3 linked regions of the Homo sapiens genome follow. The protein of the gene in region 2 interacts with the protein of the main gene of each other region in a biochemical or structural test. Each region holds a gene or a part of one and is shown on either strand. Other genes may lie near its edges. The genes, in order: DOCK4, STXBP4 and DGKK.

Region 1 (3,654 bases), on a different chromosome or scaffold from region 2:
ATCTGTTTTCCAGCCCTACTTAAATGGGCCCTAGTCCTCATTCTCCACTGCTGCCACTTGGTAGCCAGCATAGCCACCTCCTTCCTCCCCACACTCCTCACATTGAGCAGGGTCCTGATGGCCCCTGCAACTGCCTCACTTTAAAGGAAGGGAAAGAGAACACAAAGGAGGAGTGAGAGCTGGGATGGGGGTGGAGTGGGAAGTGAGGAGTGAATGGCAGGGGAAATGCACGAGGGATTATGAAAGAGAAGATGCCAGGGAGGGGAGGCCTCCTGAAGTGAGATGCAGGAAGTAGGAAGTAGGTAGGAGGGAAGCAGCAAACTGGGGAGAACAATAGAGCTTTGCCTTTGTCGCCCTGAGTCTCACTCTGTGGAAATATCTGATATGCCAAATATAACCAATCAGTTTTAAAAGGTTTCAGTCATACCCCAGGATGTCTGAATTACATCTGAATAGTCAACATTTTCAGGGTTTTTGGTTATGAAAACATCATAAATCTCTTTTTCAAAGTCAGTATTTTTAAAATCACTTTATTTTTCTCATTCTAATTCCTCCTCCTCCTCTTACCCGTGTTTGTTGCAGATAAACATTCCTGTTTGGTACTGAATTCCTTACTATTAATAGTAAATCCTTTGTGAGGTTTTTCTCTTGAATCTGGCTTTGGTGGAGCTTGCTTCTCTTTCTCCTTGAGATTCTTAATGCTTTTTCTCACTGGTGTTCTCTATATTCTCTTTTTCTTTCTCATCTTACCTACTTCCTTGGTTTGGGGGGTTTGGAGTTTTTGTTCCCTCATCATCTTTCTGTTTCTCAGAAAGTCCCTTTTGGGTTTCTGCTAAAACAAGTGATTTGAAGTAAATTTCCTGCTTCCCTGCCTGGAAATTCTGTCCTGGCTCCTCTCTCGGCCAGTCTAGTCTGGCAACTCCACTGAGCCCTGAGGCCAGTTCTACCAGGTCCCGCTGCCCTGCGCGTGCTCGGCACACGCGAGCCTTCAGTTCTCACTGCATTCATTGGCCTCCAGATGCCACCTCTCCCTGCATGCGTTGGAGACTAATAATGCATGGAGACCATCTCCCACAGCCTTTGTAACTTCTGCCCAAGAAAGATAAATTTATTCCCTCCCCAGGTGAAGAGGTTCTCTAAGGACCTGCTGGACCAAAGCCCTCATGTCTGTTTAGGAAAGGGTTAAAGAGCTGGGCCCTGTGCTTATCTGGACTCTGGGATGAAAGATGGCCTGTGGAGTCCAGGAGCTGCTCTTCTCAGGTTGAGAGCTCCCTGGATGATCTAAGAAATCACTGGGCCTGTTACCATTCTTTTAGTCTGCAAGATTTGGGTCACATTGCCAAGAAGACCTTTGTTCCTGGGTGGAGTTGGTTGCTAGGCAGAGTGCTATGTGCTGGGCACCCAAACGGGAATAAAGCAGGTTCCCAGCCCTCAAGAAACTCTCATCTTTCCAGGAGGAGGCAGAAAAATTAATCAACAAATATTTGTCACCTGCCTGATTTGTAAGGATTTGTAAGTGCTACTGTGATGTGGAAGCATGTAGAAGGGACAGTTAGCTCGAGATTTCAGGAAAGGCTTCCAAAATGAAGCAACATCCGATCTGAGGACTAAAGGATGGGTAGGAGTTTGTAAGTCAAGAGCAGTGGAGAGGAAACAGAATACAGTGAAATAAATGCCATCCTAGAGAGGGCTAGTCATAGTTTGTGGGAGCCTGCAACTTGAGTGGCTAGGAGAGGGGAGCCACATGTGTTAAGAATTTTACTTTTACTAGCAGAACGCTTTCATGTGAGGACCTGTTCTCTATTAAGGCAATTAATCTTCCTTTTCTATTTTGAAAGGTGATATGCTTGATCTTTTGAAATGGAGAACCCACCCAGACAAGATCACTGGCTGTCTCTCTAAATTAAAAGAAATTGATGGCTCAGAGATAGTAAAGGTATATAGTATTTCATTACTATTTTCCTTGCAGAGATTCATAGAATAAAGAACATTTGGAGGAAAAAGACAGATAGTATCTTATTTACTCATTTGCTACTTCTTTATCTAACAGTTTCTGCAGGATACACTGGATACCTTATTTGGAATTTTAGATGAAAATTCCCAAAAATATGGGTCTAAAGTGTTTGATTCTTTGGTAAGTTCAAATTCCCTTAATTGTATTTTAACTGTTTTGTCTCTCAATCTTGACTTTCATGAGGCTGGTTCAGAAACATGTGCTTAATAATGTAAGAGTTCATTTTAAAAAGAAGCAAAAAAAAAAGGAAAACCTTGATTTGCATTTAGTTTTATAAAGCTCAATTTTCTTTTTTTAGGTTCACATAATAAATTTGCTGCAAGATAGCAAATTTCATCATTTTAAACCTGTAATGGACACTTACATTGAGAGTCATTTTGCTGGGGCACTTGCATACAGGTAAGGCCCTGTATCTTGTAATTAGTTTAGAAGTGGTTCCTTTCAAGCTTTTCTCAGCAGAAGAGGCGATATAGGAAAATTTAAAAGGGAGTGTAGGAAGAAATGGAGCACTACTGAAGTGTCTCTTGAGATAGTCTCTTCCCTGCTAACACACCCTTTTTAAATGGGTAGAACTTATTTTGATTAAAAAGGGAAAAAAACCTCCTGAATTCTATTCCTGAGCCCTAAAATATAAAGTCTTTCCTTCTTGTCTCTGTTTCACTGGATATTCTTTGGTCTAAAATGTCTGGTTATCTCACTTCGGCTGTTAAGAGTCCCACTTCATCACTGTACTCCCTGATGATTATAAATGTTCATAAGAAAGAAATATGAATGGAAAACAACCTTTTCCTTCACACCTGCTGAAAGTCATCCATTCATTTATGTTAGGATTTACTGAGTGCCAGCTGCTTGCCAGGCACTGTACTTTATGCTGATGATGTGAAGACCTGGTCCCTGGCCTCAGGCAATTTAGTCATTGGGATCTACTCTTTGATAGGAGCTGCTATTTTAACTGCTCCTCCTTTTCTACTGGCTCAGGTGGTGCTGAAAAGTTATGAATAATATTATGCTTTGGCTAGTGCCTGCCTCCTCTCAACATAGTTGATAATTGCCAGAGGCCACAGCTTCTCTCTTTTAGTTCGACAAATAACTGCTTAAATAGCCTTGGAGTGTACCCCATCGTCTGTCTCCCAGTCCAATATGGTCCTTGCTGTTCTCCCATATTTCTACCTTATACCTTAAGCACCTGTGGGCATGCACATGCCTGACTGTTCCCTGAGGTGAGTTTAAAAAGCATGAAATCAGGTTGATATCCTTCCCCCATCTATGTAATATATAAAGGTTAATAGGTTATCAGATAAGCATTTGATCCTGTTTACTTGGATATTCCCAGCCATGACAGGTTAAGATCGACGTCTCCAACATCGAAATGAATGAAGGTATTTTTGTTAGACTTGACACTTCATCAGTGTGATTTTTTGCTGAGAGTGAAATGCAACCGCAGGAATAGTTTTGAAACATCGGCCCACTCAGCCTAACAATTTGGGCCCTAGTGTGAGGAGGTTACTGCTTCCAAGTTAAATTGTCTTTGGAAGCTAGAAAACAAGAGTATAATTTCTCACACTTCCGGTTGGCCAGGAAAGCAGGATCTTAAAAAGACAAATAAGGCTTGTGGAATCCTCTTAGGCTGGGGGTGATCA
Region 2 (3,654 bases):
TTCTGTGTTGAATGACCAGGGCCAATATCCATGTAGAGGATATGCTATATTGAAATGACTGCACCAGTTTTTACTAGTGTTTAATTTACTAAGACACCATGAAATGTTGCGTGATGTAGCTATTTAAAGTTGTCTTTTTTTCCATGAAGCAGTTTAAGGCAAGGGCAGGCTCTGGCTTTTAAATAGTCATTTTAACCTTAATTTTTAAAACAAAACTTTTGAATTATTAGTCAAGGTAAAACTAAGACCTTGGAAAGCTGAGGGTGGGTGACACACTTAGCCCATAAAGAAATAAATGTGATTACTGATTATTTTAAGATCCTTACTGAGAGTAATAATCATGAAATTCACAGAGTTTTCTTGTATCATAAGCAGCAAGGAGAGTAAGAAGTTATGTCAGGTTCCTTCATCATAAGAAGTAAAACATTACTTGAGTTTAGAAGTGAATTATAAATATTCTTCTAAATTAAAAAATGCTATGTGGACACCAAAAATATCTTCACTTATTAAGCTGCTGTTTTCACAGTAAAGGGTAGAGTATTTATTTACTTTTTGAGACAGGGCATCACTATGTTATCCAGGCTGGAGGGCAGTGGTATGATCACAGCTCATTGCAGCCTCAATCTCCTAGAGCTCCTGGGCTCCAGCAATCCTCCTGCCTCAACCTCCCAAGTAGCTGGGAATATAGGAATGCACCATCCCATCTGGCTATTTCTTTTTTTTTTTTTTTTTGTAGAGATAGGGTCCCACTGTGTGCCACTATGTTCCTTGTCTCAAACTCCTGGGCTCAAGTGATCCCCCTGCCTCAGCCTCCCAAAATACTGGGATTACAGGTATGCACCATCACACCCAACCTCATTGAGTCTTCCTGTTTCTGCAAGCGTATATTGCTAGAAGTAGAAGATGTATCTAGGACTAGTGGCAGCTATTATGAGAGCAGAAAAAAATTACTTTGGAAATGCATAAACAAGAATCTTTCTTTTGTAAATGTCTTTCATCATGTATCAAAATGACCATAAACTTGTGGTTTGAAATAAATAAATTTGATTAGTATGTTTCCAGCTTCTAGTAAGAAACTTTAAATCCAAAACATATTATGAATAATGAGACAATCGAGGTATATTCTCCAAATATATTTCTTTTATTTATAGCTACTGAAAGATGAAAACGAAAGAAAATGATTGCATGAATATGTTTTCCAAAATTCTGTTTGCCAGAACAACTAACCTGCTGGGTTGAGACACTTTTAGTAGTGAACCTGTGACCAGTAACTTTGATTCATACGCAAGACAATTACAGAATTTTAAGTTAATCTCATCTTTATAGAATTTTTGATAAAGACAGGATAGGTGGTTTCTACCATAATTTTAGATTACAAGGTTACAATGATTGACTAAATACCTCCAGGAATTTCTTTAACAGAGATGGGACACAAAACAATATGTCCTTGCATCTATTTCCATATGATGGCATCCAATGGGAGTTATGTAGCACCTTAGGACTATTTAAGAGATTTTTAGTATTTGAGTCACAATGACCAGATGAAGAATTTAATCACTACCCATATTCTGCAAAAAGCACTTAAATTTTCTTACCTTAAATTTGATAAAGGAGTAGAATTATCAGAAAATACTTCTTGAATAGCCTAGCAACAAACAAGATGGTGAAGGAGATATATCAGTTTGACAGTTTTTAAAAAATATCTTTTCTTCATTAATATTTATAACCTCCTCTGTCCACGGATTAAACTGATGCTTCTATTATGTAGCGGGGGTGCAAACAATTGAACTAACATGCAGTTTTACTCAGAAATATAACAGCTATGAAAACATTTCTTTATAAGGTAAGTAGTTATCAAATAATGTTTATGCATTATCAGGATTTTTGGTAAAGTATTCATTAAAATAGTATATACTTGGAATCCCATCACCTTGTCTCAATTATTTCTCTAAACAATCTATAAAATGTTAGCCAGTCTTTTCATCATGTATGCAGTTCTAAATCTGACCATAAGCCAGCATTGCTGCTTTGAGACTAGAGAATGTTTCACTAGGTACCAAATACAGTAACATTTATCTATATGCCAGTTGCCTATATATTTTTTAAAGATGAATGTAATAGAACAGAAAAACTTACCTCTACAAAATGAAGAAGCTTTTCAGTGGATGCCTCAAAAGTTTTTCGAGCCATTTCTGATTTTCGTAATTGGCAGTCGAGTACCATGATTCTCTTTTTTAAATCCTGAACACTTTCCTGCACAGAGATATCAAAAGGAGCATTTACACATTTCTTCAGTTTTACATTACTGGTCCCTATTTTCAGTTTTTATGAACTAATATTCAATATTACCAAATTATCTTTTTCTCTTACTGTACATATGTTTTGATTTTGGGGGGCATGTAACTAACTGCATATTTAAAAGTTAATTTGCACAGAGATACTGCAAGTTTTATGAGATAAGTTGTATATGAGTTTATTGATTCTTATAGTAAAATACATTTAAATTAGTTTATGGTTTTGTTTTGTTTTGTTTTTGCAATGTGTCTTACCAGATGCTGACAGAAACCTCTACTAATTTAACATAACTAAAAATGCTGGATACACACACACACACACACACACACACACACACACACACACACACGATGTAAGACAAAGCTAGCAAGGAAGTAAAGGAATTCCATGGAGACATGCAACAGCGATGCCAAGTGAGCCCACTGGGGTAAGAGAGCACTGAAGCATTATTTGTTCGGAGGGTATATGCTGATCCCTGGTGGCCTACAGTTTGGGGTTTCAACAGTCACAAATGGAAAACAGAAGAAACTCAATGGGTGAACTGGGAAGAAGTAAACTTCACAGAGGTAAACAGTGTTTTGATGTTGGCTCAGGTGACTTGAGTAAAAAAGTTTCTCCTGAATAATTCCTAACCAAAAGTCCCCATTCACACAGGTTTGGGGCCAGAATTTACATTATCTGTGTGGCCTAAAAAGCCATATGCTGAAATTTTACTTTAAATTGGTCCCAGGCTAGCAGAAGCAAACTCAAAACTCTGGAGAGATATTTCTAAAACTCAGAGCTCAAAGAATTCCCACTTATAATGCATTGATAGAACATGATCTCACAGACACAAACAAAAATCACTAAACATATGAGAAAATAAGCTCTATGAATGAAAGCTAACTGAAGGAAATAAAGTACAGTATCAGATCTATAAAGACAGCAGATATTTAAGTGAGCAGATACAAAATATAAGGCAATTATGTTTAATATGTTTTTAAAAATAAGAGGGAATTGAAAGTATAATACACAAGAAACTATTGAAATAGATCCAGATAACATAAAAAATACATCTCAAAAATAAAAATGTAACATAACTAAATTAGAAACTTTATTTATAGATTTGACATCCAGTTAGATACAATTATAAAGAGAATGGGTGAACTTGACAACAGAGGTAAAGAAACTTCTCATAATGGAACAGAAAGACAAAAATTGAAATACAAATGGGGAGAAAAGGTAAAGAGAAAACAGCCAGAAGAAGCTATAGCACACATCCAATCTGAATTACACAAGAACAAATACAAAGAATGAAAGAGAAATCGCTCAGGATAATAGCTTAGTGATTTCCAGAAATGGCAGAAGACATTGCTCTTC
Region 3 (3,654 bases), on a different chromosome or scaffold from region 2:
ATCTCCTGGAGTAGCACAACTAGGGTAGCTGGTGTGTACCAGCCAGCTACGCTCATAGCTTTTTATGAGCATTGATGTCTGAATATAGCCTGTTTCTTCCAAGTCTGGACCAATATTGGTAGCAAGCAGAAATGGAAAATTTATTTATTGATAGGATACTGAGGCTTCAAAGGGGCCCAGGAACCCATTTCTTCAAGTGTTTGCATTGGATATCAGTTACATTAACCGCTGTCCAGTTGCCATTTAGCATGACTCCTCTCTGTAAGAAGGCATTTGAGAAGTAAGATGGTTTTCCTTCCTGTCTTTTTCCACCATTTATCTATATATCATTCACCCTCTGCTTTCTTAATGCTTACCTCCATGTAGTAGCCGCCTTAAGAACAAGATGTGGTATGGCCTTCTGGGAACCAAAGAACTTTTGCAGCGCTCTTACAGGAAACTGGAAGAACGAGTGCATTTGGAGGTTAGTGGAAAAGCGGGTAGTCTTTCCTGGGTATGGAGAAAGGAAATCTCATGGCCTTGGGAATACCGTACATGCTGATTCTTCCTGAGCTTTAACTCTGTGATCCTCACAGCTCATGGGAGGAAGGCATGAAGATAGATTTCCATGTAATGGAAGAGAAGACAGAGCCCTTTCCCCATCTCTGTAAATGTTCCTTCATGTTGCTATCTAAAGATCCAGCTAATGAGAGCTACTCTTTTCTTTCAGTGTGATGGAGAAACCATCTCCTTGCCAAACCTGCAAGGCATTGTAGTGCTCAACATTACCAGCTATGCTGGAGGTATCAACTTCTGGGGAAGCAACACAGCAACCACGGTTAGTATGGAACAAGGAATGGGGAGGAAGAAAGGCATGATCCCACTAAGGTCTCTCTGAAGGAAGCATTGTGCTAACTGAAGTGAAAAATAGACAATGGGAGAAGAGGAGGTGGTCCGAGAACCTTTATTAGCAGCAGCTGTATGATCAGTTTTTCAGGCAATTACCATCCGAAAGCAGAAAATTCAACCAAAGACCTCAGGATAAGGTCAACTCGTAGGTGTTGCCTGGGCTTTGGATTTTCCATTCCTCGGGTCTGACAGATCCTTTAAAGGCTATCTAGACCATGCTTTTTTTTTTTTTTTTTTTTTGAAACGGAGTCTTGCTCTGTCATCCAGGCTGGAGTGGCAAGATCTCAGCTCACTGCAACCTCCGCCTCCCAGGTTCAAGTGATTCTCCTGCCTCAGCCTCCCGAGTAGCTGGGATTACAGGCGCCAGCCACCATGCCCGGCTAATTTTTGTATTTTTAGTAGAGACAGGGTTTCGCCATGTTGACCAGGCTTGTTGACCTTGAACTTTTGGCCTCAGGTGATCCACCCACCTTGGCCTCCCAAAGTGCTGGGATTACAGGTGTGAGCCACTGCGCCCGGCCAAGGCCATGCTCTTTTCTCCAAGGAATTCTGTCAGTAAAATCTCCTGGGATGCTGACCATGACCCCTTTACTCTGAGTTTACCCAAGAAGGTCATAAGGCCAATAAGACTGGCCTCAGGTATTTATGATGCTGGATTGGAAAAGGAGGGAACTGGCTAAGAGTGCAGTACCCTTTTCCCAGATTGGCTTTCTGACCTCATCTTTTTCCCTTTTAATAATGAAGTGTTTCCACTCTTCATGAGCTAGAAAAATTCTCACCAGGAGCCTTTAAACATGCCTTCTTGTTATAGACAGGGTGTGATTTCTCAAGGGTGGGAGATGTGACACAGTTCTTCCTCCTCAGGAATATGAGGCTCCTGCAATCGATGATGGGAAACTGGAGGTGGTGGCAATCTTTGGTTCTGTGCAGATGGCAATGTCCCGTATCATCAACCTGCATCATCATCGCATTGCCCAGGTAGGCAGGGGCTGGGTGGGCACTGGGAAGGGGCTGAGGTTTTTGACTGCTACCCAGGATGTGGGATAGTCCCAGGAATTAACTGGGTAGAAGAATGCCAGGGTGGAGTGAGCAGGTTATCTGGTGGGCAGTAAAGTGCTGACTGAGGTTGGAGGCAGAGGTGGCAGAAGCCAATGGAGCAAAAAGCCCATAGGAAACAGGCATTTCTTCCTGGGATGATCTGATTCACATCCTTTCCAGTCCTGCTTCAGATACACATTCAAGGCCATAACTATGAGATTATCAGATAGAGTTACAGCAGTTGCCCCATTTTTCTCTCCCATTCTTCCTCATTTTCTCTGGCAGTGCCATGAGGTGATGATAACCATTGATGGTGAAGAAGGTATCCCAGTGCAGGTGGATGGGGAGGCCTGGATTCAGAGACCAGGCCTTATCAAAATTAGATACAAGAACGCTGCCCAGATGCTGACAAGAGATCGGGTAAGGGGGAAAATCTTGTCTTGGGCTCCTATACTGCCTCATCCATAGTCACTTGAGTACTGAATATTTCCACTCAAGCAGAATTCCTCAAAAGGAGGTCTGTGTGCCCCTGGCATCAGAGTCACTTGAGATGCTGGTTATAAATGCATTCTTGGGCCCCCACACCAGACCCACTGAACCACATAGGGTTGCATAGTTCCCAGGAACCCAAATTTGCAAACAGGCTCCTCAAGACACTCTGATATATACTGACATTTGCAAACACTGTCCAAGAGAGTGAGACAAGGAGCTTCCTCCCCTGGTTTTCGACAAGGTTATCCTCCTCTTTCCACTGCAAAGAGAGCTAAAAGCGTCAGATGATTATGGAAAAATCTTCTCCTTCAGCAACAGATTCTGCATTGAACATGGTCTTTAGGTGTCTCTAAGGTTCCTTAAAATGCTGCATTAATACATGTCATCCACTTCAGCTAAAGCTTCTAAAGCTTATAAAGGAGCTATTATTGATCACATATTCAATGCTTGGAGGTTATCTTGCACTCTAACCTGTGAAAAGTCCATGGAAACAGCAATAGAGAAAGGAAGAGAAGTCCAGTTTATAAACTGCCTATTCTGTGCTAGGCATTTTACATTTCTCTCATGTAGGTTCTCTCCACAATCTTATGAGGTGGATACACTTATTCCCATTTTACAGATGAGGAAAATGAGGACCAGAGAGGTTAAATAATTTGCTAATGGTCACACAACTAGTAAATGACAGAAACACGATTCAAAATTAAATTAGATATGTTTGGCTCTAAACTGCATCACCACATATTGCCTACATTTGGCAAAGAAGGGAGCATGAAAGGTGCTCCACTGTCTTGTCAGTCATGATGCCTTCATATGGGAGCTTCTAGAAACCAGACATGTGTATGATCCAAGCCTGGTGTCCCAAAATCCAGCATACTCAGAACAACAAAAACTAAAGGGCATAGTCCAGAAGAGATTGAATAAAATGATGGATACTTGTATAGGTATATAGATGGGTATGACAGGGGGAATGGACAGGGGGCCCTCCTTCCCCTCTACCCACTGTACCCACATACCCATTGCCCACAAACGTCAGGCTCACAGACAGATCTGTCATGTGCACTAGTAGCTACAGCAATCATTAGGATATGCCACTGTATTCATCTCCAGGACTTTGAGAACTCAATGAAAATGTGGGAATACAAGCATACTGAAATTCAAGCTGCCCCTCAACCCCAGCTGGACTTCCAGGACTCTCAAGAGAGCCTCTCTGACGAGGAGTATGCCCAGATGCAGCAC

Evidence for each region.
Region 1: the proteins of STXBP4 (region 2) and DOCK4 interact in a test that uses a peptide from one of them, tested with the Homo sapiens proteins (one large-scale study listed by IntAct).
Region 3: the proteins of STXBP4 (region 2) and DGKK interact in a test that uses a peptide from one of them, tested with the Homo sapiens proteins (one large-scale study listed by IntAct).

Annotation. Positions count from the first base shown.
Region 1 is NC_000007.14:111,870,749-111,874,402, reverse strand, and holds part of DOCK4 (dedicator of cytokinesis protein 4), read left to right. Parts: intron 1-1,838; coding exon 1,839-1,936; intron 1,937-2,050; coding exon 2,051-2,134; intron 2,135-2,312; coding exon 2,313-2,413; intron 2,414-3,654. UniProt on the Homo sapiens protein: Functions as a guanine nucleotide exchange factor (GEF) that promotes the exchange of GDP to GTP, converting inactive GDP-bound small GTPases into their active GTP-bound form. Involved in regulation of adherens junction between cells.
Region 2 is NC_000017.11:55,076,677-55,080,330, reverse strand, and holds part of STXBP4 (syntaxin-binding protein 4), read right to left. Parts: intron 2,254-3,654; coding exon 2,137-2,253; intron 1,646-2,136; coding exon 1,596-1,645; intron 1-1,595. UniProt on the Homo sapiens protein: Plays a role in the translocation of transport vesicles from the cytoplasm to the plasma membrane. Inhibits the translocation of SLC2A4 from intracellular vesicles to the plasma membrane by STX4A binding and preventing the interaction between STX4A and VAMP2.
Region 3 is NC_000023.11:50,376,790-50,380,443, reverse strand, and holds part of DGKK (diacylglycerol kinase kappa), read left to right. Parts: intron 1-366; coding exon 367-463; intron 464-709; coding exon 710-817; intron 818-1,752; coding exon 1,753-1,866; intron 1,867-2,211; coding exon 2,212-2,346; intron 2,347-3,525; coding exon 3,526-3,654. UniProt on the Homo sapiens protein: Diacylglycerol kinase that converts diacylglycerol/DAG into phosphatidic acid/phosphatidate/PA and regulates the respective levels of these two bioactive lipids.